Linked DNA regions of Homo sapiens: region 1 is linked to region 2. Evidence: fine-mapped expression QTL. A gene starts in region 2. The other region holds a variant in brackets. All regions are shown on one strand. Distances are from middle to middle.

Region 1 (12,923 bases), 140 kb after region 2:
TTTCTGTTCATTTTCCTCTTTAAAATAAAACTATTTTCAGCAGTTTAAAGAGTTAACATCTGCCAACATAAGTCAACAACTCACTTACAATATAATTAGTCCTACTAGAAGAACCATGTCAGGTAATACTTTAACGGAATGGTCTTTCCCAATTAGTAAGTGGCTGAGCTGGATCTAGAAACCAGGACGTTGGCTATCAAGCCTAATATTCTGTCCAATCTGGCCCAGCTAGCTTCATCTAGACATCCGTTCTTTTGGAGGAGTTTACAGGGCCCAGACAGAACCAAGGCTAGTTTCCACAGGTAACACTAACCAGTCTCATTTCTTTACAACCATCTTCATTTATCATATCTCCAAGAGATTTCTGTCTTAATAGTCAAAGCCAGCTGCTACCACCCAAGGCCGATTCTGCCAATGATAGATTTTTATAATGCGTGTAGCTAATAGGGCTTATGCTGTCATAATGTGGCAGGACTAGATAAATCTCTGTAATAAAACTAAGAATCTCTTGCGTTTATATATTGCTTTTACTTTCTAAGTGCATTCGCATCTGTTCTGTCATTTTCTTATTCCAATACCCTTAGGAATGATGGATCCGTCAGAGGCAATGCTCTTTTTATTTAGATCGAAAAAACTGGAAGGACGACTGAAAAGTGCTTTCAATAATCCCTTCTGGCAAGTGGGCATAGTCATTGCCCCTCTTACACACCAGAACCTTATTAGGATCAAATATGTAAGTTGATGTCCTTAGAAAAGCATAAAAAAGCTTACCCATCTGATGAGGCTCCTCTGATGAACCAGTCCTTGCTTTAGAATAAAAAATGAAATTCTGGCACTCTTACCCCATAAATTATAATTGCCTTTTTTACCTCTCCTTAAGCTTGGCGCCCCATCCCTCTTTTCTCCTCCCCTTGGCATGTAAACTTAATGTTTCGACCAAATGAGTCAACCAGAACGGGAATACAAATTCACTAAGCAAATGTACAAAAGGTATTCATGCGCTATTGCGGTTAAACTGCCATTAAAACAAGAACTAAACAATAAAAATCTTGTGTTTATAGGATGATGCAATCATAAAGAGAAAAAAATCATTCATCTTTGGTCATCAGCTGTTTTCTCCAGTCTGCCCATGATCTGCTCAGAGAAAGAAGATAAATGACAACCACTGAACGGGCCAGGATAACCAAACCCAGACTTGAGGGAGATGGTTTGTCCCATTTCTGCAGCTTTTGACACACATTCAATTTTGTTTGGGGAAATGCAAGGACCATGTCAATGGGAAAATCTTGGTCACAAAATATATATTTAGAGCAACTATTTCAAAATTATATTTTTCACTTCTTTTTTAGCTCTAATGGGAGCACATTTAAAAAAGGAATACATAACACTTATACCTTTTTAGAAAATAAGGTATTGCTCTTATAAGCCATTTATTCCTAATTACACAATTAGTTTATCATTCTGCACTTGCTGAGAAAAAGCCTATAAGGCAAAGAATGGGCTGACTTAAGTTTTTTTTTTTTTAATTATTAAAAAAAGTTAACAATCTAGTTTCTTTTCCTTCTGGAATTCAAAAATGTTAAAGCTACTAAGTATTTCTCATTTCTGGATAATAAAATAATGATGTAATTAACAATCAAATAGCATAACATCATATGAAATTGTTAAATCTACTTGTGAATAGAAGTAAAAGCTGTACCATTTTAAGGAATTTTAAAATGAGATAATTATCACGTAGTTTGAGAGTGGAAATCAAATTCTTCCAATATGCATGCTACTCTTGTTGGGTACTTCTAAAAAGTTGCTCTGATGGTGGGACTCCTAAGGTTTTGGATGGAGCCAGTTACAACTGCAGGGGCATTTGCTTCCAGAGTGTTATTTTTACTCCCAGTGAACTGCTCCTCCAACGGCCTTCCCCAGGACACAGTGTCTGCTGGCCACACAGTTTCTTCAGCCACTGCTCTGACTACAGACCAGAGGGCACCAGCTGAGCTGGGGAGGAATGGACTGCATTTCTCCTTCAGAGAGGTCCAGTACCATCCTTCACCTAGACTGTTGAGTCTCTTGATGGTTTCCCTGTTTCCGGCCCTGTCTTTTTTTTTTTTTTTTTTTTGAGATGGAGTTTCACTCTGTCACCCAGGCTAGAGTGCAGTGGCATGATCTCAGCTCACTGCACCCTCTGCCCCCTGGATTCAAGAGATTCTGTTGCCTCAGCCTCCCTAGTAGCTGGGATTACAGGCAACCGCCACCACACCCAGCTTTTTTTTTTTTTTTTTTTTTTTTTTGTATTTTTAGTAGAATAAGGGTTTCACCATGTTGGCCAGGCTGGTCTCAAACTCCTGACTTCAAGTGATTCACCCTCCTCAGCCTCCTAAAGTGCTGGAATTACAGGCATGAGCCACCATGCCCAGCCACTGTCTCCTTTCAATTAGTCTACCCCACAGCAGCTAGAGGTCCTTCTGAAATGAGAATTTGATTGTCTCTTCCTTAACATCCTTCAAGAGTTCACCATTCCTTTAGGATCACATCCAAATGTCAATGGATAGCATTCAAGGACCTTCTCCATCCTTCCCAAACCTGTCTTTCCAGGTCCCCTCCTGCTATGCATCACTTAATATCTTGTGCTCAAGCCTCATGAATGGAAAAGATATTTATGCCTCTTGTAGGGGAAGAAAAACAATTTTTCTTTCATCCTTCGTAAGTTCTTTGTTGGAACAAACTCCTGTTACAAAAGACAGATGAACAAGAGAAAAGCGAGGAAAAATAAGTTTATTAACATGTATATTTCATATATACATGGCAGACACCCAGGGAATAAGTAGTTCTCTAAGAGGTGGCTTTGAATACCAGCTTACGTAGTATCTTCAACAGAGAGAGGTAAACTTTTAGAGAAGTGACAAGACAAAGGAAAAGGACTGAGTTTCTGGGGACAGCAATTGGTGGGAAGACAAATAAATGGCAGACAAAGGCTGTTAGTAAAGCTTATTAATGTAGATTCCTCTAGTACCATCTCTAGACCAAGAAGCACCCAAAGTGGTCTCCAGTGCTTAACCTTTGTTCTCTCCCTGGTAGGAGGAGGAGCAGGGAACCTTTTGTCTCTGTCAGTCTAGGTCCTGCTTTTTAGGCAAATAGAGGGAAGGTAGAGAGCTTTTCTGCATCTGCCTCTTCCAAATTGCCTTCAGCTGGATAATCCTTCATGTTTTCAGGTGGCATATTCCAGCCTCCCACTGTTTTAGTCTGTTTGTGTCACTATAACAAAATACCTGAGACTGGGTAATGTATAAACCATGGAAATCTATTTCTCACTGTCCTGGAGGCTAGGATGTCCAAGAGCAAGGCACCAGCAGGTTCAGTTATCTGGGGAGGGTTGTTCTCTGCTTCCAGGATGGTGCCTTGCAGAGGAATCCTGCAGAGGGGCTGAATGCTGTGTGAAGCCTCTTTTATAAAGGCCTAAATCCCATTCACAAGGGAAGAGTCCTCATGACCCAATCATCTCCCAAAGGCTCACCTCTTAATAACTACTGCATTGGAGATTGTTTCAACCTGATGCTCAGAGGTCCACAAACATTCAGATCATAACACACACAATCTCTACTCTCTCTGCCTTCTTCCATGATTTATCCTGGTGATACCCATTCATCCTTTAACTCAAATGTCACTCTGGATTCTAAGTCTCAAAAGGGCAAGCATGACATCCTGTATACTTCACAACACGTGCATGGCTCACCGTGGCCTATGTGAAGTGCTTATCAGAAACTTCTAAACCTATTGTGAAAAGAACTAGCATTTCTTCCAATAATATTATTCCCCTGTTATTCACTTTTTCTGATCTTTTGCTTATTTTCCTATTTCTTTGCTTTTTTTTTCTTCTTTCATTTTCAATTTCTCTCTAATAGGGGGAGCACCAGGATGGGAAAGAACTTGAGGTTGGGGAGCCTTTGGTGAAACCAGTTGCTCTATCTGCCTCTACTGGAATTTCTTCTTAACACCCCATTGAATGCATCTGCCTCAGGGGCCTGGATTGTGACAGCTGTTTAATAAACCACATCAGCAGTGCACCAGGCTTAAGACAGAATGAAAGTGAGAACCTCATATTCCATTTCAACTCTGGTGATAACCTCTGAATTCCATTATTCACCATTTTAATACAACCTTTATTATTTTCCTCAATGTCCTCCCCCCACCTCTAGTTTCCTTCTTCCCTTTGGTGTAGTCAAATGGCCTTTGGCTCAGCGGTTGGTGGCTTTATACATGCAGCCTCTATTCATATGCATAAGCTTACAGCTGCTCAAATACTTCAGAAATCTGATCAGCCTCCCCTTCCCGCTCCCCCTCCTAAATGCTTCGTGAAATCTTTGCTAGGCAGAGAAAAAGGCCATGTCTCTTAGCTGCTCCTGCCCTGCCTGTCCCCATTCAATTGTGGGGATGCATTATAGTGGAGTGGTGGTGGTTATCCTTTTGAAGTCCTTACATATTCCACCCCACTGAATAGAAGTGAAAGGGGGAGGGATGGAGGAAAAAAAGGATGCTGGTGCTGGCCATGATGGAACATTATGGAAAGTCAAGCTTCTGAAGAGGAGCTTGCTTCCAACTGCACTATCTTCTAGGCAGTGAGACCAGCATCTTCACATTTTACAATAGAAGGGACGGCAGCTAATTTCAATGCATCATGTAACTCCCAAGAGGTGTCACTTTACCTGGATGCTTAAAGGCAACTTCCCTGTCTCTCTCGGATGGGGCTGACAACATGGAATCTCCCCCAGCAAAGAATGTGTGCAGGAGTGACAGACAGCTTGAGGAAACACCTGTTTCACTTGCCTCACCCAAGCCACAGTTATCTATCACTCAGCAGTTCAAAGCTGAACTGGCCAGGACAGAGCACCAAATTGCTGGCAGAGGCCGGGCTCCAGTCAAGTGCTGGCATCTCATCCAAACAGGTTGAAATTAGGTTTCAAAACTACCTGTGAGAAAGAAAGATGAGGTGGAAAGTCGCTGATGTGAGCAAAAATACTGCAGTAATAGCTGGTTGGGGAAGAGAGCGGGGGGGAACTGAGCTGCAAAAACACTTAAAACATGCTACTCTGAAAGCCTGTGGCTCCCTTGTCTCCCCCAACTCTCTCTTTTATTAACTTAGCTTCTTTTATGAGTACTTTAATAAAACGAACTCTTTTTTACCCTGTGCAAGGAAGATCCATAAATGCTCCTACGTTGAAAACAAAAACAAAAAGCAAAAAACTTACATTTCCCAGGATATCCGAAAGAAAGGAATGGGTAGGGGAGGGAAGAGCAATAAATGGTTACACTAAAGGCTCCTGTTATATGGAGTCATACATAAGGTGGGCACGAGGATGCCTTCTGAAAATCCAGCTGACGCCATGTGAAGGAAGGCATACTTTTTCAAGACTTGGGAGGAAGATAATCCTTTATGACTCCTCATTTAACTTCTTTATATCTAGTGATTTATCATCTAATCCCTGAGCTTTACTTGGGGTCACAAGAGTCCTCTTTTACTCTGTGTGTACAGTGAGGGCTGAAGGGTGAAAGGGAGCCTCATCTACAAGCCCAGGACATGTTCTGAACCGACTGGCCACCCGGAGGCCTTAAGACCCCTTGGGAGAGCAAGGAAAGATTTTTTTCTCTCTGACATCCCACATTGAATCCACCTGCAAATCCTGTTGGTTCTACTTTCAAGATACATTCAATCCACTTTTGGCATCTCCTCTGTTATCACCTTGTATATGGTCCAAACTGCCCTCATCTGTCACCTATATTACTACAATAACTTCTACCTGGTCTCCTTGCTCCCACCTTTGTCCCCACTTGTTCTGCATAAGACAGCCTAAGGTAGTGGGAGAGGTCCTCCACTCCACGCCACCACACCCGGCCTCCTTGTTTTCTTGATTATCCTGTTTAAACTTGCAATGACCCCCCACTGCCTTCACTATCCACATTCCCTACTTTATGTTTCTCTATAGCACTTATCATGGTCCCATACACTATATATTTTACTCATTCTATATCTGCCAACCTGTATGTTCCATCAGGGCAGGAGTTTTGTTTCTTTCATGCCTGCATCCTCAGTGTCTAAAACACTGCCTGGTACATAATAGGTGTTCAATAAATATTTGTTGAATGAATATTATGCTCATTCTGAGGCCAAAATTCTTTAAAATTGGGGATAAAGGCTGTGTCAGCATTGGAGCTGTTGTGCCAAACCCCTATTAACCTCAATAGGGAAGGTGTTAGGGTCAAGAGGCCAAAGAAAAGAACCAGGAACAGCAAGCAAGACATGAGGTTTTATTAATGGATTACATAGACAGGAGAGATTCCAGTGGTGGTGAGTTGGACAAGAGATTTGCCTTACATACAGAGACAGATCAGTGGCAGCAGCTGGACAAAATGTCTGCCTTACCGCCTTACCTACAGTCAACAAAGCCCAGTGGTGGTGGGCTAGGCAGGAAAACCCCAACCATTTGCAAAGAGCATGCAGTTTATATAGCATTTCACTTAATATCCTGCCCTTAACAACCTCCACCTGGCAATCTTCATCCAACCCAAAACTCAGGGCTTCAATCCTCTATACAGCCCATGTTCCACAGGATGGGCTGGGGTGTGTACGTAGGGATGGGGCTCAGATGTTCCTCATTGACAAGGAATGAATCTCCAGGTTGGCCACGCCCAAATTCCCTAGCTTGGAACACGAATTCAGGTGTATCTGCTATATAGGCTATGCTTAAATTATTGCTGTCAGGTGCATCTACTGTACGGGGCGCAACTTCCCAGTGGGCCACAGGACACGGCTCCTCCAGGGATGTGGGTGTGTAATGGTCAGAGCAGGATAGATTTGGAGAGCAAAGTCAGGAATGCCAGTCAACCGCAGGCCTAGACATTGAAAAACTGGTCTCTAAGTTTGAAAGGAGAATATATATATATATATATATATATATATATATATAAAACTATCAACCACAGCACAGTCATTGATGCTTACTTAGTGAGAGGGCAGCTCTCAGTGGTTAGGAAGAACCCCCCTCTCCTCCCCCTTAACCAGGTGGCCTCATTCTGGAACAAAAGGCATCCAAACATAAAGAAACAGCACTGCCACTCTGCCTTCTCAGCTCTTATCTTTACTGCTCTGTTCTTGTCATCATATTGGTCCTTAGAGTAGGCCACGCCAAGTGCAATCAGGGTGGAATTAGTTGCTACAGGATATCTGTAGCAACTTCACAGAAGTTCCTCAGAAGGAGATTTCATGGCACAAATTCCCAGTGGCTGAAGTGGAAGAGCTCAGCAGTCAAGGGCTTTGTATTAATTACCCTGCCCTGGCTTCCTTCCCTTAATGCTCAGGTGGCCTGGTTAAAATGAATCCCATCCTCATTCTTCCATTTAAGCCCAATGATAGTCATAGTTCTAGCAAGGAGGGTGCAGTAGGGACGTCCACACCCTGAACCTGCCCTGGATTAGGACAATACACTGGCTCCTCTCTGCTATTCTTAGAATTGGAATCAAAGTGTGGAATTGTCCACTCTCTTTCCATGTCAACACAAGACCTCAATCTCTGATCCAGCCTGACTTTCAGAAGTCCACAGTAGACACAGGAGTGATA[T/C]GGAACTGACCCTTCAGGGCAGGGTTTAAAACTAAGTGTTATCTCAAAAACAGTGTCCAGGGTTAGGTATGGCAACCGAAGAGAAGCTCCAGCTGTAAATGGTCTGGAGGTGACAACTGGGTAAAAGAAATCCCATAGCAAACAGCAAGCAGGTTTCGAAGGGAGGGAAGGCAGAAACCTAGACCCTGGGTTTTAGAGGCCTCTGCATCCCTCTGTTTTGGAGAGTTGGGGTTCAGGACCTGTTAAAGCAACTTAGAGTCTTCAGACAGGAATAGACAACTCTTGGTTAAGTTCAGGACAGATTCAATGGGAGAGATAGAATTTTCATTACTTTAAAAACAGGCAAAAGAGTAAGTGTCTGTAAATCTAACTCAGCCAGAATCTATCTCAATATCCTTTTTTATTTTTTAAAGGTAGACAAATTTATTATATTTGGAGCATAACCAACTTGTTTCTTATTCTTAGCTCTGCCTCCCTGCCAGGCCAGACATACTCACGGACACCAAAGCCATGGGCACCAGCCCTGATTGTAGTGGATATGAGTTATGAGTTAGAATGAATGCATTTGGAGACTGGAGCTAACAGAATTTGTAAACTATGCAAATCATTTCTTATCCTTCTTACTTTAAAAAAGGACTATTCTGCTACTCTCAGCAGATTTCAGCCTATTCACTGAGTACTTCAGAGTTTACAAAATACTCTCATATACATCATCTCATCTTGTCCCTGTCCCTGCAGGAAGCAATGGGGTGAAAAAAAAGGGGGGGATTACTTCAGATCAGTCTCAAAACATCAAAACATGACTTAGCTGGTCCTAGTCCCACTCTGTCATGGTTTGGTTTTTAGCTCAAATAAACACATTCACTGATTTACAAAACTAGGTAATAAAACATTCATCCCTACCTTCTTTTTTTTTTTTTTGAGACAGTCTTGCTCGGTCGCCCAGGCTGAAGTGCAGTGGTGTGATCTCAGCTCACCGCAACTTCTACCCCTCAGGTTCAAGCGAAACTCCTGCCTTAGCCTCCTGAGTAGCTGGGATTACAGGCACCTGCCACCACACCCAGCTTTTTTTTTTTTTTTTGTATTTTTAGTAGAGACAGGGTTTTGCCATGTTGGCTGGGCTGGTCTCTAACTCCTGACCTCAGGTGATCCACCTTATTGGCTTCCCAAAGTGCCGGGATTACAGGCATGAGCCACCGCACCTGGCTGATTCATCCCAGCCTTCTGACCATAGGATAGAACTCTTTCTTAACTAGCGGATTCCTGGGGGCAGGAGGTGGGAAGAGAGTGTGACAAGTACAGCCTGTTCTCTCCTGAAAACTCAATTTGTCTTCTTTTCCCCTCCCTGTGAACTCTTAGTTGATACTGAGCCCGTACTGGTATATTCTTATCTTTCCCTTTTACGCATCAGATAGAAGCTAATGAAGGGTTCTTCTGATTGAATTTTGTGCTTATAGTTCCCCAGGTGAGATTATAAGAAAGGAAAAATATGGGGAGGTTGAACTAATACAACCTCAGGTGCATGTAGCACAATTTGATGGGATCTTAAAGGCCTTTCAGACTTTTAGTCTACAATCCCAAAGTGGTCTCTCTAATTCCTACCCCCTCCTTCTTTCTTGCCCCACACCAAGACTTCCTATAACCCTCCCCACTCACTGCCACACCTAACAGGAGGAAGTGACTCAAATCTCCCCAGGACCCCCAGCTTGTAGGCACCGATGTGGCATCTCCTTTCCTAAGGTCCTCTCCAGGTTTATCGGGCAGACACAGGCTTCCTAACAGCTCTAGCCACCACACAGTCGCCTCAGCACTCCACCTTTCCTGCACCAGTGACCGTTGTCAAGGTCCTCAGCGCAGAAATCAACTAGGAAGGCTGCCTCTCTGTGAGGTGCGGGCACACATGGTGGAACACCAGCATCTGTGCCAGAGCCTGTCTCCCCGGAGGGAGGTTAAGGTCTGCAGCAGTCAGGAGTCTGCCTCCCATTTACTGCCATTCTTTCTTAGCTGAAGGTGCTGAGTGCTTCTTGTCCTTCCCATGATTCTCAGAGCCCCTTTTAAATCATCTCTCTGAACTCGAGCATAGTCCATGGGACTGGGTGGAGGAAAAACACTACACACCACTACTAGATTGCCCATGTCCCTTAACTCCAACCCCTGGTTCTAAAACAGCTTTCTTCTTACTGGCCTCCTCCTTTCTCATCAAATCACTCATAGAAACAGCTGCCTGAGGAGCTGCCAGCTCCACACACCCATCAGGGTGACAGCTTGCTGCCAGGCATTCTCAGAGGTTCCAGCAGTGGCTCACACCCTTCAAACTGCAAAGTGTTCTTTCCTCTCTCAGATGATCGACAGGTCTGATAAACACTTGGTTCAGTTAGGTGACTGAAAAAGAGGGCTCCAGATGAGCAGAACCTCCTCACCCCTATACCTCACCGATGGGTCATAAAGCAATGGACTTTCAGATATTAGCAACAGATCTCGCTCACCTGTGGTTTTCAGAGCTTTGGTTAATAACCTGAGTTACCCTGGCCTCCAGGCTTGTCTCTTTCCCCAAGAATCGACCCAGGGCTACTTAAGGCAGAGAGATCCATTTCCTGGAATGAGCTGCTCTGAACCAAGACAAGTTCATGGTCTCTGAGTCCTCATTTGTGGCCTGCTGTCTTGATAACAGCTCTCTTGTCAGTCCTCCATAAGCTCTGGTCCAGCCTCCCCGTTGCAGGACATTTTTTCATCTTCAGAAGATTCTGAGACTTTAGGAATGAATCATTGCTGGTATGCAAAGTTACATAAGAAAAGCTAGGGACAAACTAGGCAAGTAAAGAATTCTAGTTTTTCCAAAATGGAAATTTTAGAAAAATATAAAAAATAATCTTATCAAAGCATGTGCTTCCTCTGGCAAAGCATACCTCTCCTATCCACAAGGAGCCTTGGGTGCAGGGGAAGATGAAATAATGATATTGCTCATTAGAGACAAAGAGGAAACTAGATGGGTCTACAGGGAGGGCTCCTTCCTAGTGTTCCTTCAGAGAGGGATGCTTTCCTACTCTGTTGTGGCTTATCATGTAGATTCATTCTTGCATAGAAAGCAAATAAGAGAATTGAATGCCATCATTTCTGTGAGGAAGAAAAAAGAAATCAACATATCAACTGTTGTCCTATTTGCATCCCTTCCTTCTGCTTCCTTATAAAATTAGCAGCAAAATGACATTCCTTATTCCTCCATGCAAGTCGTACAACTGACAGCCTTAGCATCCCAAATAAAGCTCCTCTCCTTAAGTCCAATATTGAAGTCACTTAAGAACTCTCTGCCCTTGATTTTGATCCTTTCTCCTGTCAAAGTGAGGGTGACATTAACAAGTGTGCACAGGAGGGGGCTTTGTGCCAATTAACAGTTTCTCATTAGCTTAATTAGGGGACACATGTTTTTAATCACAGCTAAGAAAGTGGAATGATTGAAGAATTGATTCTGAGCTTTTGAAAGCATCCCTGTCAGTGCATGGAATTTAATTCTGCAGATGTTGCTTTAAAAGAGACAGTGGTAGAAAGAAATAGCTTTAAATGACATGGCCTCACTGAGCATAATAAGAGAATAGGAATCTGAACCAGATAAACAGAGTGTTTCCACTTCGGATCTAAGACAATCTTTTTCAGGCTATCTGCAGAATCGAGGGTCTTGCCCTCTTTGTTATATTATGTGAGATAGCCAAGTGGGACAATTTTCTTTTCTTTTCCACTAACCCTTTATCCCTAGATTCCGAGTAAACAGACCTGATGGTTGTAGAGATGTTCAGATAATGTGGATAGTTTAGATGCAGATTTCGGGGGGTTGCTGATGGTTGTTCTAGCTGAAACGGCTGTTAAATTTGGACTTCATGGAGTATTTGAGAAGTCTAAATTTGTGAGACCTGTTTACATCAGGAAATGGTTTGATTTATGGTCTTGCATGCTTGTAACCTGAAGCTGGGTAACTGTCACAGTCCGTATATAACCCAAAGGGCCACTCATTCAGATCATGCAAATCTAAAGGTGATTGTTAAGCACTAAAAATTACATTGATTTAAATGTCTATATTGTTTTGGGCTCTACACAATACAGCAAGGCCATGACCCATTCCATTTAAAACCTTAGTAGGCTAATGTTTCACTAATTATGAGATTTTAATACAGTATGCACACAGATTTGTTCTTTGTAGAATGCAATCTTTACTGATATATCCCTTTTGCAATTTATCTTTTATTTTTCTTGATTGCAAAAAGCAATAAACTTTAATTGCAAAAAACTGAAAAATACTGTAAAACACAAAGAAGAAAAAAGTAGTACATAATTCCACCTACGCAGATATAATCACTATTTATATTTTAATGTATAGGCTTTTTTACTATGTAAATTTCCTTTTTTTTTTTTTTTGAGAGAGAGGGTATGCACCGTGTTGCCCAGGCTGGAATACAGTGGCACCATCATGGCTCACTGCAGCCTCAACCTCCTGGGCTCAGGTGATCCTCCCACCTCAGCCTCCTGGGTAGCTGGGACTACAGGCATGTGCCACCACACCTGGCTAATTTTTTGTATTTTTTTGTAGAGACAGGGTTTCACCATGTTGCCGAGGCTGGCCTCAATCTCCTGAGCTCAAGAGATCTGTCTGCCTTGGCCCCAAAGTGCTAAGATTACAGGCATGAGCCACCAGGCCCGGCCACACTATGCATATTTTCTAATAAAATGGGATGATACTGTATTTCTGGTTTTACAACAGCTGTTTTACTTACTATATCATTATGACCTCCCCAGATCATTAAATATTCTTGTACAACATAATTGTTAATGACTGCGTAGTATTCTGGCTCATGAATTTGTCATATTTATTATAGAACATTACAAATATTCCCATTTTTGGTATTATAAGCAATGATGAAGTGGTCATGCTTGAATATAAATCTTTTCAAGCATCCTTGATCATCTCCTTTGAATAAATTTCTAGAGGTGAAATTGCAGAGTCAGAGATTATGTACATTTTTAAGACATTTAAACATATTGTCAAGTTTCTCTCCAGAAGTTATAATCTACCAGTTTATATTCCCATAACTAACAATATAGGATAGTGATCTTTTTTACTAAAGTAAAAACAATAAATAAGTATAATCTCTAAAAGTAAAGTAAAAAAATTATATCATTATTTTTATTACAATTTTGACTACCAGTGAAATCAGATATTATCTCTTATAAGTTATAAGTTATATTTCTTTTTGTGCATTGTCAAATCATGTATTTCTCTCATTTTGCTCCTGGGATATTCACCTTTTGTTTTTATTATTATTTTTAT
Region 2 (12,923 bases):
TGCACCACTGCATCCAGCCAATTGTATATGTACGTATACATACGTATACATACATATATATTTTATTTTCATTTATTTATATTTTGAGATGGAGTTTTGCTCTTGTTGCTCAGGCTGGAGTGCAATGATGTGATCTTGGCTCATTGCAACCTCTGCCTCCCAGGTTCAAGCAACTCTCCCGCCTCAGCCTCCCGGGTGGCTGGGATTACAGGCATGAGCCACCACACAAGGCTAATTTTGTATTTTCAGTAAAGACGGGGTTTCACCATGTTGGTCAGGCTGGTCTCGAATTCCTGACCTCAGGCGATCTGCCTGCCTTGGCCTCCCAAAGTGCTGGGATTACAGGCATGAGCCACCATGCCTGGCTATATATTTTTATTTTTAAAATTAGGTTACACATGCCATCTTAAAAATAAGCCCTGTTTTTTCTTGTCTCCTCATTCTATTTTGTTTTCTTTAACATTAGCCCACCCAGCTGGCTAGAGAAAAATTAAATCACAAATGAATAATCATTTAATTGTGATTTTTGCATAGTAGTAAGTGCTCAGGATGTATATGAATTAACCAGAAAGTCCACATCTAGTAGACAAAAAGAAGACTCCCTGGATGAAGCCTAGGTAGTCTTCTGGCCAGTGATCTGCCTGTCCCTGCATGGAAGGTGGCCTGCCTCTCAGAGATTCTTGAGTCCCTCCTATGACCTCTGGATTTATTGGTGTTCACTTGACAAATGAACTTAGCCATCTGAGTTTCTGAATTTGTCTGAACAATGTGAGTTTGGTTTCTCAGAGGTCTTTGCTCCTGGTGCCTATATCTGCTTCTCCCCAGAACATCATGTCAACTTTTCATCTCCACATCCACACCCCTAGACTAATAAGTCAGTCCTTCTCCGTGATTGCTCCCAACTTTATTGGTTGGTGCTGACACCACTAGCCTTGTCAGAGCTATTGAATAGGTAAGTTTTTGCATTCCTCTTCTTGACAGATTCAAAGTCTTTATTTATGTCTTTCCTAAGGTAAAAACTTTCTCAGAATCTCAGGCGTGTCCTATAATTTATAAAATAATACAAAACTCCAACCAAGTCTGGTATGAAAGCATATATCAGCATTTCCAGTGGTACCCAAATGCCCAACCCCTGTCTTTTCAGATACAATAGGTGAGATTACATTAAAACAGTGGTTCTCACATTCTTCTACAATCTGGCATTCTCAGATTAGAAGAGATAGCTCAGTACAGAAGTGATTCTTGTGAGGATAGGAGGGGTGGTAAGGGGAAATACCTTTCTTCAGTTGGACCAGAAGCTTGAGGAGGAAGAGGAGGTATGCTAATTTAAATAGGACTCTTCAGTGGGAGCTGGAATGTGGTTAAGGCTAAACACATGAATTGCCCATCGGGGTTACTTCTTGAAACATGAGACTAATGTCACTACTCCTTGGCTTTCATCATCAGCTCTAGAACCATAATTTTTCCGTAATGTATCATATGATTATAATTTGACTTGTTCAGGCTCCTCCCAGGACCAGAGCACAAACTCATGCCGTAGCTCTATTCAGACGTTTTTATATTGTTCCATGGAGCTGCAATCTCTTTTGGGAACTATACCAGGCTACATAGTATGCCTCCTTCATGTTAATGTTCACCCAGAACCTCAGACCTTATTTGGAAATAGAGACAGTGATGATGAATTTTATGTGTTAACTTTACTGGGTTAAGGGATAGACCAGATATTTGGTCAAACATTATTTCAGGGTGTGTTTGGAGTGTGTTTATGGAAGAGATTAGTATTTCAATTGGTAGACTGAGTGAAAAAGAGCGCTCTCACTAATGCAGTTGGGCAGCATCTAATACATTGAGGGCCCAGATAGAACACAAAGGCAGAGGAAGGATAAATTTGCTCTATCTTTAAGAGCTGAAATGTCTGTCTTCTCCTGCCCTCAGACATCTGTGCTTCTGGTTCTTGGGCCTTCAGACCCAGAATGGGACTTACACCATCATCTTCTCTGGTTCTCAGGCCGTTAAACTTGAAAAGAATTATATCACTGGCTTTCCTGGATCTCTAGCTCACAGATGACAGACTGTGGGGCTTCTCAGCCTCCAAAATCACATGAACTAATTCTTATGATAAATCACCTCATATATATATTTATAAATAAAGCAGATTGCCCTCTGTAATTTAGGTGACCTTAATCTAATCAGTTGAAGGCCTGGATAGAACAAAAAGGCAAACCCTACTGCAAGTAAGAGGGAACTCCTCCTGCCTGGCTGGAAGCTGGGACATTGATCTTTCCTGGCATTTGGACTCAAACTGAAACATCTGCTCTTTTTGGGTTTCAAGGCTGCTGGCTTTTGGACTGAAACTTATAGCACCGGCTTTCTTGGATTTCGGGCCTTCAGACTCAGACTGAACTGCACATAGCACCCCCGGGTTCCTAGCTTGCCAACTGCAGATCTTGGGACCTCTCAGCCTTCATAATTGTGTGAGCCAGTTCCTTATAATAAATTGTGTGTGTGTGCCTGTGTGTGTGTGTGTGCATGCAATCTCCTATTGGCTCCATTTCTCTAGAGAACCCTGACTAATACAGGGGCTTTGGAGATGTAATTTATTAATCTAAGATAAGGTCATACTGCATTTGGGTGGGCCCTGTTCCCACAACTGATGTCTTTATAAGAAGAGAAAACAGAGGCAGAGGCTCTTAGAGAGAACATCACATGATGACAGAGGCAGAGGTTAGGGTGATACACCTGCAAGCCCAGGGACACCAATGACTGTCAGCAACCACCAGCAGCCAGCAGAGAAGCATGGAGCAGATTCTCCCTTGGAGTACCCAGAAGGAACCAACTTTGCTGGTATCTTGATTTCAGACCTCTAATCTCCAGAACAGTGAGAGGATACATTTCTGTAATTGTAAGTGACCCAGTTTGTGGTACTTCGTTATGGCAGTCCTAAGAAATTGCTACAGTTTCCTACTCAACAACCTGCCTGCAATCAGTTCCTCTCTACTCTCTACTGCCATCCAGGACCGAGGTGCTGGTTCCCAGGCCCACCTGATGTCACATTGCTCCATCAATGTGATGAAGGCCCTCCTACTCTTACCCTCCCCATCTGCCTTCCCTGCTGATGAGCAGCTTGTCTGTCTGGGTCTCTTCTAGTGCCTGCCCTGAGTCTTCCCCTGTTATGGTCTGGAACAAGCCGTCACAGCCTTCTTGCTACCTTCACTGGCACCATCGGATGGCCTGGACTCCCACCTGCTTCCTGATGTCAGCCCTCTGGCCACAAGGAGCCATCCACCTGGCTGCAGCAGGGTCCGTCTCCACAATGCCTACTCCATCCCCACTGTGTTGGGAGGGGATAGTTTGTTCTAGGTCTGATTCCAGTCTATTTTACCCTCTTAGATATCCTTCTGTGCCAGGTTACCTGGTGAGGCAGGAAAGTCAGGATCTGAATTCTCTGAAATCTTGTTGTCATCCCCTCAGAAAGTATTGTTTGATGCAGGTGTCCTCCTGCCTCCGTTTTATTTACTGTGCAGCAAGTAGAGTCCCTTTATCTGCTTGGCACTTGGCCTCATTTAGATTCTTAAATGTGCTGGCGAAAGAGTCTGTCTTTCTGTGGGGAGCTCCTTTTGTTGTTTCATCCTTTTGACTTTCTTCCTTCTTCCTCTTTCTTTCTTCTAAAAATGAAAACAAAGGAATTTTAAATGAGCCAATTCATTGCTTACAAAAATGGTCTTATCCATATTTTGGTGAGTAATTAGTAGCATCGGAATCCTGCCTGAGCAATTTTTTTTGCCTCCCATCCCACCCCAATCAGCCTAAAAGTTATAATCTCTAAAATCAGAGTAAGAGGATACTTCGGCTGCTTTTTATGCCCAAAAAATTATATACATGTACATATGTGTACATATATATGTCTTTTTGTGTATTTATAGAGTATGTGAGACAGAGAAAGACAGATTAACTAATCAGTCACAGGAGGCATATGACACATGGATACAAGAGGCAACTACAAGGATTACTAGAAGCCAGTTGGGTGAGAACCGTGTACACCTGCACAGGACAGATGCTGGAAACAAAGATACACTATCTCTGGCACCTTTTTATGGAAAAAGAAATTTACCTCACTTTGGGGATGTGTGACTGTGGAGAATGTGGCTTAGTATTTATGGAGTGTTCATCTTGTAGTTAGCGGTTTGTCAATTCGTAAAATTTTAGAACTAGAGGACCTCTTACCTTAAAGATTAGGAAATGGAGCCCACGGAGGTTATCCATTCCATAAGCCACAAGCAATAAAGTATGGCCACTCACATCTAGAAACACATCTTGAATGCAGAATCAGTGCCCAGCAGTCACAGGACTGAAAGGAACTTTCATGACTTTTCTTCTCTGTCAACAGTAATAGGTGGATCTTTGGGATTTCTGGTCATTTAGGCCACTCAGTAACTGGATCCCAGTTTCCCTAATAATGTGTTGCATTTGCAAAGTCGACCCCCAGAATAATCTGCTTCTTCTAGTCCCACTGTCCAGTGTGCCATGAGATAGATACCTGCTCTTCTTGTCCTTTTTTGTCTTCATAGATAATGTTTATGTATACACTGTATATAATAAAGGGAGATTTTACCAGTGGGTTAGGATTGGCACAGATCATGCTAAAACTCTTTCCATAATTTAGCAGATACTCTCAGAGCACCTCTCACATGCCCTCAATCCTTTGCCAGTTACCAGTCGTGCATACAGTTTCAGATGTGCTTCTTTTCAGGACAGTCAGTCCCCAACTCTGTCCGAGGACTTCCCTCAAGATCCAGAACTTCAGCTTTTCTTGTGTATGCAGACAGCTGCAAGAGCTTAGGAATTTACATCCCTCAGGGAGTATCCCTTAATGACTGATGCGTGTGAGGGTATAAATAATCCAGCTACCCTGCTTCTAGTTTGGGATAACCCTAGTTTTGTGATTTACTCTCCAGTGTTTCCTTGCATGACTGAGCTAAAGTTACACTCACAGAACTTTGCTTCATATTGCACCCTTGCTTGGCTTCCTTCCCTTTCTATGTCCCACTTCCCTTCTCCCCTATGGATTTTGCCAGGGGGCACTGTGTAATAAACCACTTCCATAAAGATCATCATCTCAGAGTCTGTTTTTCAGGGACCAGAACCCAGAACACATGGACTATCTTATTTAGTGCTTTCAACAAGCCCATAATGTAAGTTTTTACAGAAGAAAAAACAGAGGCTCAGAATTATGGAGCCAAGATTCCTGTCCAGTTTCCCTGGCAGCTGAGTCCATGCTCTCAGCCCCTCCACTGTATGAGGCTTAGTTCTGTGGTGCTCCTCTTCCCCTGACTCAGGGCTGGCTAACCTACTCTTATTCCTGGGTAGGTGGAGCCAATGTCCTCTATCAAGTTTCTCTCAGCTGATCCCAGCATGTCCACTAGGGAATTTGACCTTTTTCCCAAGTCTTTGTAGCTCCTTTACTGAGTCTGGACTCTAGAAATCCCATACATCGTCATCCCCCATGAGCACCAGTGAATGATTTAGACTCCAAATGAATATACATAGCATACATTGTACCCAAAACCTTCACCCCACATACATTTGAACTCTAGAGTTAGATTCCTTATTCCCTTGCTATTCAAAGTGTGGTCTGTGGACTAGCAACATGGACATCATCTGGGAGCTTGTGAAAAGTGCAGAAGCTCAGGACCCATCCCAGATCTGTTGAATCAGAATCCGTACTTTGAGAAGACCCCCTAGGAGTCATGTAGGTTTTAGAAATTGAGCCCGAGTGGAACAGGACCTGATTTTGCCACGCTCCCATGAATTCAGCCACCTGGATTCCAACCCAGTCCCTCTGCACACCACCCCTCCCTGGCATGAGCTCCCAGCATTCCGTTTAGCCAGGACCAGGCCTTCTGTGTCTACTCAATTCATAGGATTGTGAATCTCTCCTCTAGCTAAGGAATTCTGCCTCTCTTCTCACAACAATCTCCCTCTCGATAAATTTAAATTTATTTTTTCCTGAACTAAAATGGACTCTCACCTTGGGTGGGAATAAGATGGCTATTTGCCTAAAAGACAGATAAACTACGCATACTCTTAATATAGAGGATACAACCTGCAGGAAAGACTCAAGTAGAAAGTGTAAGATGAGTCCTGACTTCTAACTTGAATTAAAAAATACCTAATGCCCTGACTAGAAAGATACATTCTAAGAAAGGAGTACCTCCACGTCAGATCATTTGTGAAAAGTGATTCCTTGAAGGTTGGCTGTATTGATGGCAAAGATTGCTGCATTCAGCTGTTCTTTATTAGAACTCCTGAAGATACACCTTCTTGGAAATACAAACCTGCTCTGTGGAAAAGGGAGAGAAATTTGTGGAAAAACAGATGGAAGTAGTGAGGACGCTGCTCCATAGGTTTATTTTGCAATCTTCACAGACAGTTTTATTAAAAAGACTTCCAGTCATAATAGGGCTGTGAGTGATGTTTGTTGAGAAAGGAAATAATTTGGTAGATGGCTAGTTCCATATGAAGAGCTATTGCAGCCACAAGGAGATCTGAAGGTATGGAGATTACTTCAGATATTTGTTATGGTAAAACACCAGCGGGCCTGACTTCTTTCCACCATCAGTAACTCCTTTTAACTCCAGTAGCAATTCAGCTTTGCTTTATTCCCCATTCATTCAATTTTTCCGTGGTCCTTCTTAAGTCCTCCTTACTTGGCCTTAAGCTGATCAAAAGAGAGATTTCCATTGTATATCAAAGAAAAGTTTAAAATACTTACCCTGTGGTAAGTACTTATCTCTCCCATTCCAGAGAGAAAGTGGCCATAGACAATATGGACATGAACAAGAGTGGTCGTGTAGCAATAAAACTTCACAAAAACAGGCAAAGGGTGCATTTTACCTGAGCCCAGCTCTAGAGAGACTTTATGATCTTCTCCATCACACATCTTCACCCTGGTCCAAACTACCTTTATTCCTTGGGAACGTAACAATAGTTTTCTAATTATTCTCCTTCTGCTTCCATTCTTATCAGCCTCTAATCCTTTCTTCCCACAGCAAAATGAACTTTAAAACATATGTCAGAACATGTCCCTCCCATGTTAAAACCCTTCTGTAGGTTTCCTTTTCAGAAAGCTTTGGATATTCTGCCATCACCTCCCCTCCCCTTGCAGTCCCTATCTTCATCTCTTATTGCTATTCTCTTGGTGCCTCTGTCACATTGCCTTTCTTTCAATCCCTAAAACACTCCAACTTCTTTTCTATCTCTGGGCTTCCCATAGGTGGGGCTCTGCCAAAAAGACTCCTCTCCCTCCTTTGCCTGGATAGCCCTGCTCCTGTTTTAAGTTCTAGAATTGGTGTCATGTCCTAGACTGGCTCCAAACTGAATTTCATCTTCTTTGTTATTCTCTCATATGGCAGCTTGCTTTTTTTTTTTAAAGCACTTTGTGTAATTTGTAATTATAAGTATACCTTTGTTTGTTGGCCACCTGTCTCCACTAATGTAGTAAGCTCTGTGACAACAGAGGCCATGCAGTTTGCCACCATGGACTCGGTGTCCAGAGCAGTGTTGGCACAGGGTAGGCCCAGGGTCTTGATTTTTGATAAATGAATAATTGGGCAAATGTGTAAATCAGGTGATTGTGTGTGATGGGAAAAGGATTCTTTGGGTAGAAACACAACAGGGTGCAAAGTCAACACCAGATCAGTTGCAGATTGTTTTGTGGGAAATGAATGATTCAACAAGAAAAGCTAAGTAAAGACTGAGGTAGGGGCTGGGTAAGAACAAAGGAGTTAGTAGGCAGCAAGTGTATTCACGTGCTATGGACTGAATGTGTCTCCGCAAAAAAAGTGTGTTAAAATCTCACACCTCAATGTGATGGCGTTAGGAGGTGGGGCCACTGCCAGGTGATTAGGATGTGAGGATTGAGCTCTCCTGAATGATATCAGTGCCTTTTAAGAAGAAACACTAGAGAGCTTCCTCTTCTCTTTCTCTCTCCCTCCCCGCTGCACCCCCCTCCACGATGTAAGGATACAAGAAGACAGCCATCTGTAAAAACCAGAAAAAAGGACTTCAACAAGAACCCAACCATACTGGAACCCTAGTGTTGAACTTCCAACCTCCAGAACTATGAGAAAAAAAAGTTTGTTATTTAAGCCACCCAGTCTATGGCACTCTGTTATAGCAGCCTGAACTAAGACAGTGAGAGACAGAAGACCCTTGAAGGCAGAAACCAGATTTCTTTGTTTCTTTTCGTGTCAGTGCATGACAGGATACTCCATAAATCCCAGTGTAAACTCAGAAAATGAAAAGAAAAAGTACTTGATTAAAGGATGAAAGCTTAGAGAGGGTTTTGGGGGGCTCCCGTACAGTTTTAAGGTTCAAAGACAAACACATTAGGAGTCAGGGGACATTCTACTTGGTTAAGTACTAAAGAGAATGGAAAATTAGAAAAAAGAATATGATTGATTCCTTAGGGTAATAGAGATAGAAGATTTGGTTAGTGGAAGTATGGTAGAGAAAGGAATGAAAGACAGAGCTAATTATTTCCCAGTATTCCTTCTTTCTTTCTTCTTTTTAGTAATAGAATCTCAAACCTTTACTTGAGAACACAAATTTTTGTGATACCCCATATTTTCCAGTCTGCTTTGCAGTTAGATATGCCATGTTCCTAAGTTTTGGACAATATATGTGAGTGGAAGTGAAGCATGCATCACCTGAATCTTTACAATGTAACAAGTTTCCCTCTACTCTGCCTTTCCTTCTTTCTGTTCCACTACTGAGTGTGGTGACATCTGGAGTAGCCACCTTGACCCTAACATAGAAGCCTCATGTTGACGATGGAAACACTGGAGCAACAAGCCTTGGTCCCCGTGTGACTCTGTGGAGCAGAGCTGCCTGTCCACCCTGTGCCTCCCACTAAGTTTCTGCCTTATTTAATCTCATGTATTTAAGGTTAGAGCAGGTTAGCCTATTACATAGCTAAAGCAGTGTGGTAGAGCTAGAAAAAAAAGTGCCCTTCTCAGGAGCCATGTAACAAAACTCCCTGGGCCACGAAAGACTGAGAATGTGGTACTAAGTCAATAAACTCAGTTCCAATTTATCTGTCAAACTGGATAACAGTTATTCTAAAGGGGTGTGATTGGTAGATCTTTAGATTAGTAGACCTCTCCACAGTAAGTTCTTATAACTCTAAACATATGGTGAAAATGGATTAATCTTACTGATGACTCATTCCCTGGATGGATATAGAAGGACTAGGATTGGGCTGAGGATGTGAAAAGATAGCAAAAAGAGGACAGTTTCTTCAGTGATTGTGACGAGTGTCTGCCTGGCATTTGTGGATTGCTCTATGTGTGCATTCTATCTGCTCATCTAGGTTTTAAGTTTCCTGAGAGGATGTTTAGGTCATATTTATGTCCTCCATGACATGAAACCCAGTGTTCTGCACATGGTAAGTGCTCAGCAAAAAATTTCTGACTGAATGATTAACCGAAAGTTATTTTCCTCTGTCATGAACACTTCCTTGTTTCCTGTGCTAACCTCACCCCTCTTCTAGCCAAACTATTCTGACATAACCCTAAAAGTAGCAGAAACAGGCACCCAGTAGTTCAGGAAACCCTGGGACTTCCCGGCAAGCTAAAAGCCAAACTAGATTATTGGTATGAATTTGAAAACCAAGAACCTCCAAGGCTTTAGAAATAGAAAAGGATTGAATTTGCATCAGTATCTGTCCCAAACTGTCTCTTGTGAAGAGGGAGAAATGAATGTCAGAGTAGGTAAGACGAGACCCAGAGACCAAGAGATAGAGAACAAGAGGTGGACTGAGAACAGCATATTCCAATTCCCTGAGCTGTCAATCCAACACCTTTCACCCCACATCAAATTCTCTTCCAATTTCTCCTGTTAAATTGCAATCCAAAACACACTGCAGATGTGATATCATTTTCCCTGATAACTGGACCCTCTGAGTTAATGACTTTCCTTCCTTCCAGTGGGGAAACAATTTCATTTTGCTTAATGTAATTATTGTAGTCTTTTTCTGTTCACCACTCTGACCCAAGGAGGCCCAGTTTCAGAGGAGCTCAGCTTCTCCTCTCCAGCTGCACGTGGAAACATTATTATTACTATAAGTCTACATTGTGAATTGTGGCACAACAGTCCACCTCAGCCTAGCCGATGACCTCTCATTGACAATAACCAGGGCTGGCCAGGAGACAAAACTGGTCGGTATGAAGGAGAGGTGTGTGCCTCAGAGGAAAATACAGACAAACTGCTTATGTTCTATGTTGTAACGTGGTTCACCCACAATTAAGTTCCCTGGTCTAGGGACAGAGTCTGGGAAATGTGAGTAGCTTGATTCTGTCATTTACCTTTCCCTGAGCCACAGGTGGGCTCTGGGAAATAGGAGTAGCTTGGTTCTGTCATTTACCTTTCCCTGAGCCACAGGTGGGCTCTGGGACCCTCTTTTCCTTCAGCGCTCCGTACTTCTATCCAGAGGAAATTTAAAGCAGACAAGGGTTAGCAGCGCTGAGCCCCAGCAGCCTTGAAACAATTGAATGGAGACTACTGAGCTCTGTGAAAGATGTGTCGGGCTCCTGCGAGGAGCTCCCTGAAACTAGAGGCAGCCACCTCAGCTTCACTGCTGACTCAGGCGAAGGCTTAGCGCTTGCACCAACATAGTTGATGAATGGGAGTGAGGCTAATTTGGTGTCATTTGTTTCCCATTTCCAAGCCCTCATTAAAATAATCTGCTCTGATTGTCTAGGGAAGTTATTTTTTGCACTTCCTTTCCCTTCACTTTACAATTTCACAGGCAGCAGATTTCTGTGTGGAGGGGTCCAGTCAGCTCTGAGGAGAGATGGGGGAGGATAGGAGGGGCTCAGGAATTGCTGGGAGCACAGCCAGACCTCTTGGCAGCCAGTGAGGTGGGAATCCCAGACCCTCCACTGTCCCCTGGACTGGATCCCTGACAAGCACTGGATTCCTGGTATTGAGGGATTCCACCTCCCTGGGAAATTCCTTTGATTAGAGAGTAAAAATAAAGGGAAATCTTGGTTCTGGTTAGCATATTTCAAAAAGGGTTCTCCGAGGAGGAAATGAAGCATCCCAAAATAGAATTCAGAGCTTCCATTCTCTCAGTCACCCATACGTGATATAGTTTAGCACACGCTGAGATGGTGAAGGGAATGACTGTCCATTTACTCAACTCTTGCTGAGCACTTGCTATGAGACAGGCAGTGTCCAAGATGATAGGGACACAGAGATGAGTGGAACACAGGGCCTATCTCCTTTTCTATCTCAGAGTGTATTCTTGCTCATCTATCTCCATTAATTCAGAATACTTGTCTCTGCTAACAGGCCCGCATTGCCATCTTCACACCCTTTTTGGGGATCCAAGTAATTTCCTGCAGGCTTTGTCTTGACTCACATCTCTGGCCCTCATCATTTTCTTGCCCTTGGGTAGAAATGCTTTGGTTTAGATTTTACTGTTCCAAAGCCAGTCTCTGACTTCTGCTTTTGGCTAGAGCCCAACCAGGCCAGCCCCAGCCCCAGTCCCATTGAGGGTAGCCCTTGAGTAGCAGCCCTAGAAAGTATTACATTCAGCTGGGGAGACAGAATGCCCACGTTTGCATAGATCATTGAAACTGACTGGACAGCACATGCCAGAAGTCTAATGCAGGGCTCTTTCCTGTACTCGCAGTCAGATGTTTGTTCCTGGCCACTCTCTCCGAGTCACAGATGCAGCAGAATCGCCCAGGGTCTCCTGCCCCAGCCAGATTTCCCAGAACCATAGCAGCAATCTCCTTCATTTGGCTTCTGTTTAAACCAGTAATAGGATTTACCCTTGGTTTGCATAACAGAAGAAGAGTTCTTTATTTTTTCTACTATTTATTATGACATATAAATTATGATAATACTGGTTAAACTATTTTTTATTACTCTAAATTGTCACTTACTATTTGCCAGGCTGTATGCAAGGCAATGAAACACTAAAGTCAACAAGGTACAATCACTGCCCTCAAGGAATCTATTAAAAAATGGGCCAAATAGCCCCTTTGGTTTCTGACTGTAAAGGAAGAGTCCTTTACATACAGGGTAGATATTCATGAAAATGTCTTCCTCCTGTAACATCTTTTTTTTTTCATTCTGGTGTCTGAATATCATTGACTCACTCCTGCCTCTTTTCCCCACTCCCTCCCCCAGCAGCTCCCTCCCCCAGCAGCTCCCTCCCCCAGCAGCTCCCTCCCCCAGCAGCTCTCTCTTATCCCAAAGCAGGGATGCCTCTTGCGTTCACGTGTATTACATGGTCTTCAGGCACTTCATGTTTCTACAATCAACATATTTTAAAGTCTTGGGAAAGGTTTTTAATTGGCTGAAATGCTGATTGCCATAACAACTGGCTAATGAACCATCTGGTAGCACATGCAATATTTATTTATGAATTAAACAGCTAGGCACTATGAAGTCTAGTTTCCTCTCAAGGACAGCATGGGGGCCATCTTTGGAGAATGCAAGTTCTCTGCAGGGGTTTGCTTAATGGATCTCCAAAAAGTCAAGAGAAGGGAAATGATGCTTCATTTCAGGGCAGGTGTGTATTCATGTTGAGAGGAAAACAGCAGAGTCATGGGCAATGGGCAGGAAATCCAGAGAGGAGAGGACAGAGCAGGGTTCCAAGAACTAGGAAGTGACCCTCCCTATCTTTTGCCCCTTAAGATGTAAAAAACTCTCAACAGTAATTTACAGCTAATTTGTTCTTCCTAAATTTAAGTAAATTTCCCATTCTAGCTGTGACTGTCAGACATTGAATGTATGGCAAAAAAGTTTTTATTTCCAACTGATGCCAGTCACTATGACTCTCGAATCTAAGGGTTTACTTTTAGGGGATCAGAAACCTTTTGAATATCTAATTCAAGCTATGGACCTTTCCT

Which allele goes with the higher level. Alleles are on the strand shown, and positions count from the first base shown. SD is a standard deviation of normalised expression in the study named.
In carriers of allele C in region 1, the expression in caudate of the gene that starts at base 5,676 in region 2 tends to be higher than with T alone (moderate effect, 0.49 SD a copy in GTEx).

The links. PIP is the estimated chance that this variant, and not a neighbour inherited with it, causes the effect.
Region 1: its variant is fine-mapped to the expression of LINC02769 in caudate (GTEx, PIP 0.97).

What each region holds. Positions count from the first base shown.
Region 1 is chr1:208,777,572-208,790,494 of GRCh38, forward strand. No RefSeq gene overlaps it. Among named protein-coding and RNA genes, the nearest start is that of LINC01717, 55 kb to the left of the region's middle. The variant T/C (reference allele first, on the strand shown) is at 7,607.
Region 2 is chr1:208,632,573-208,645,495 of GRCh38, forward strand. It overlaps LINC02769 (long intergenic non-protein coding RNA 2769), which reads right to left and starts at 5,676. Exons shown (of 3, transcript NR_187286.1): 1 at 3,413-5,676.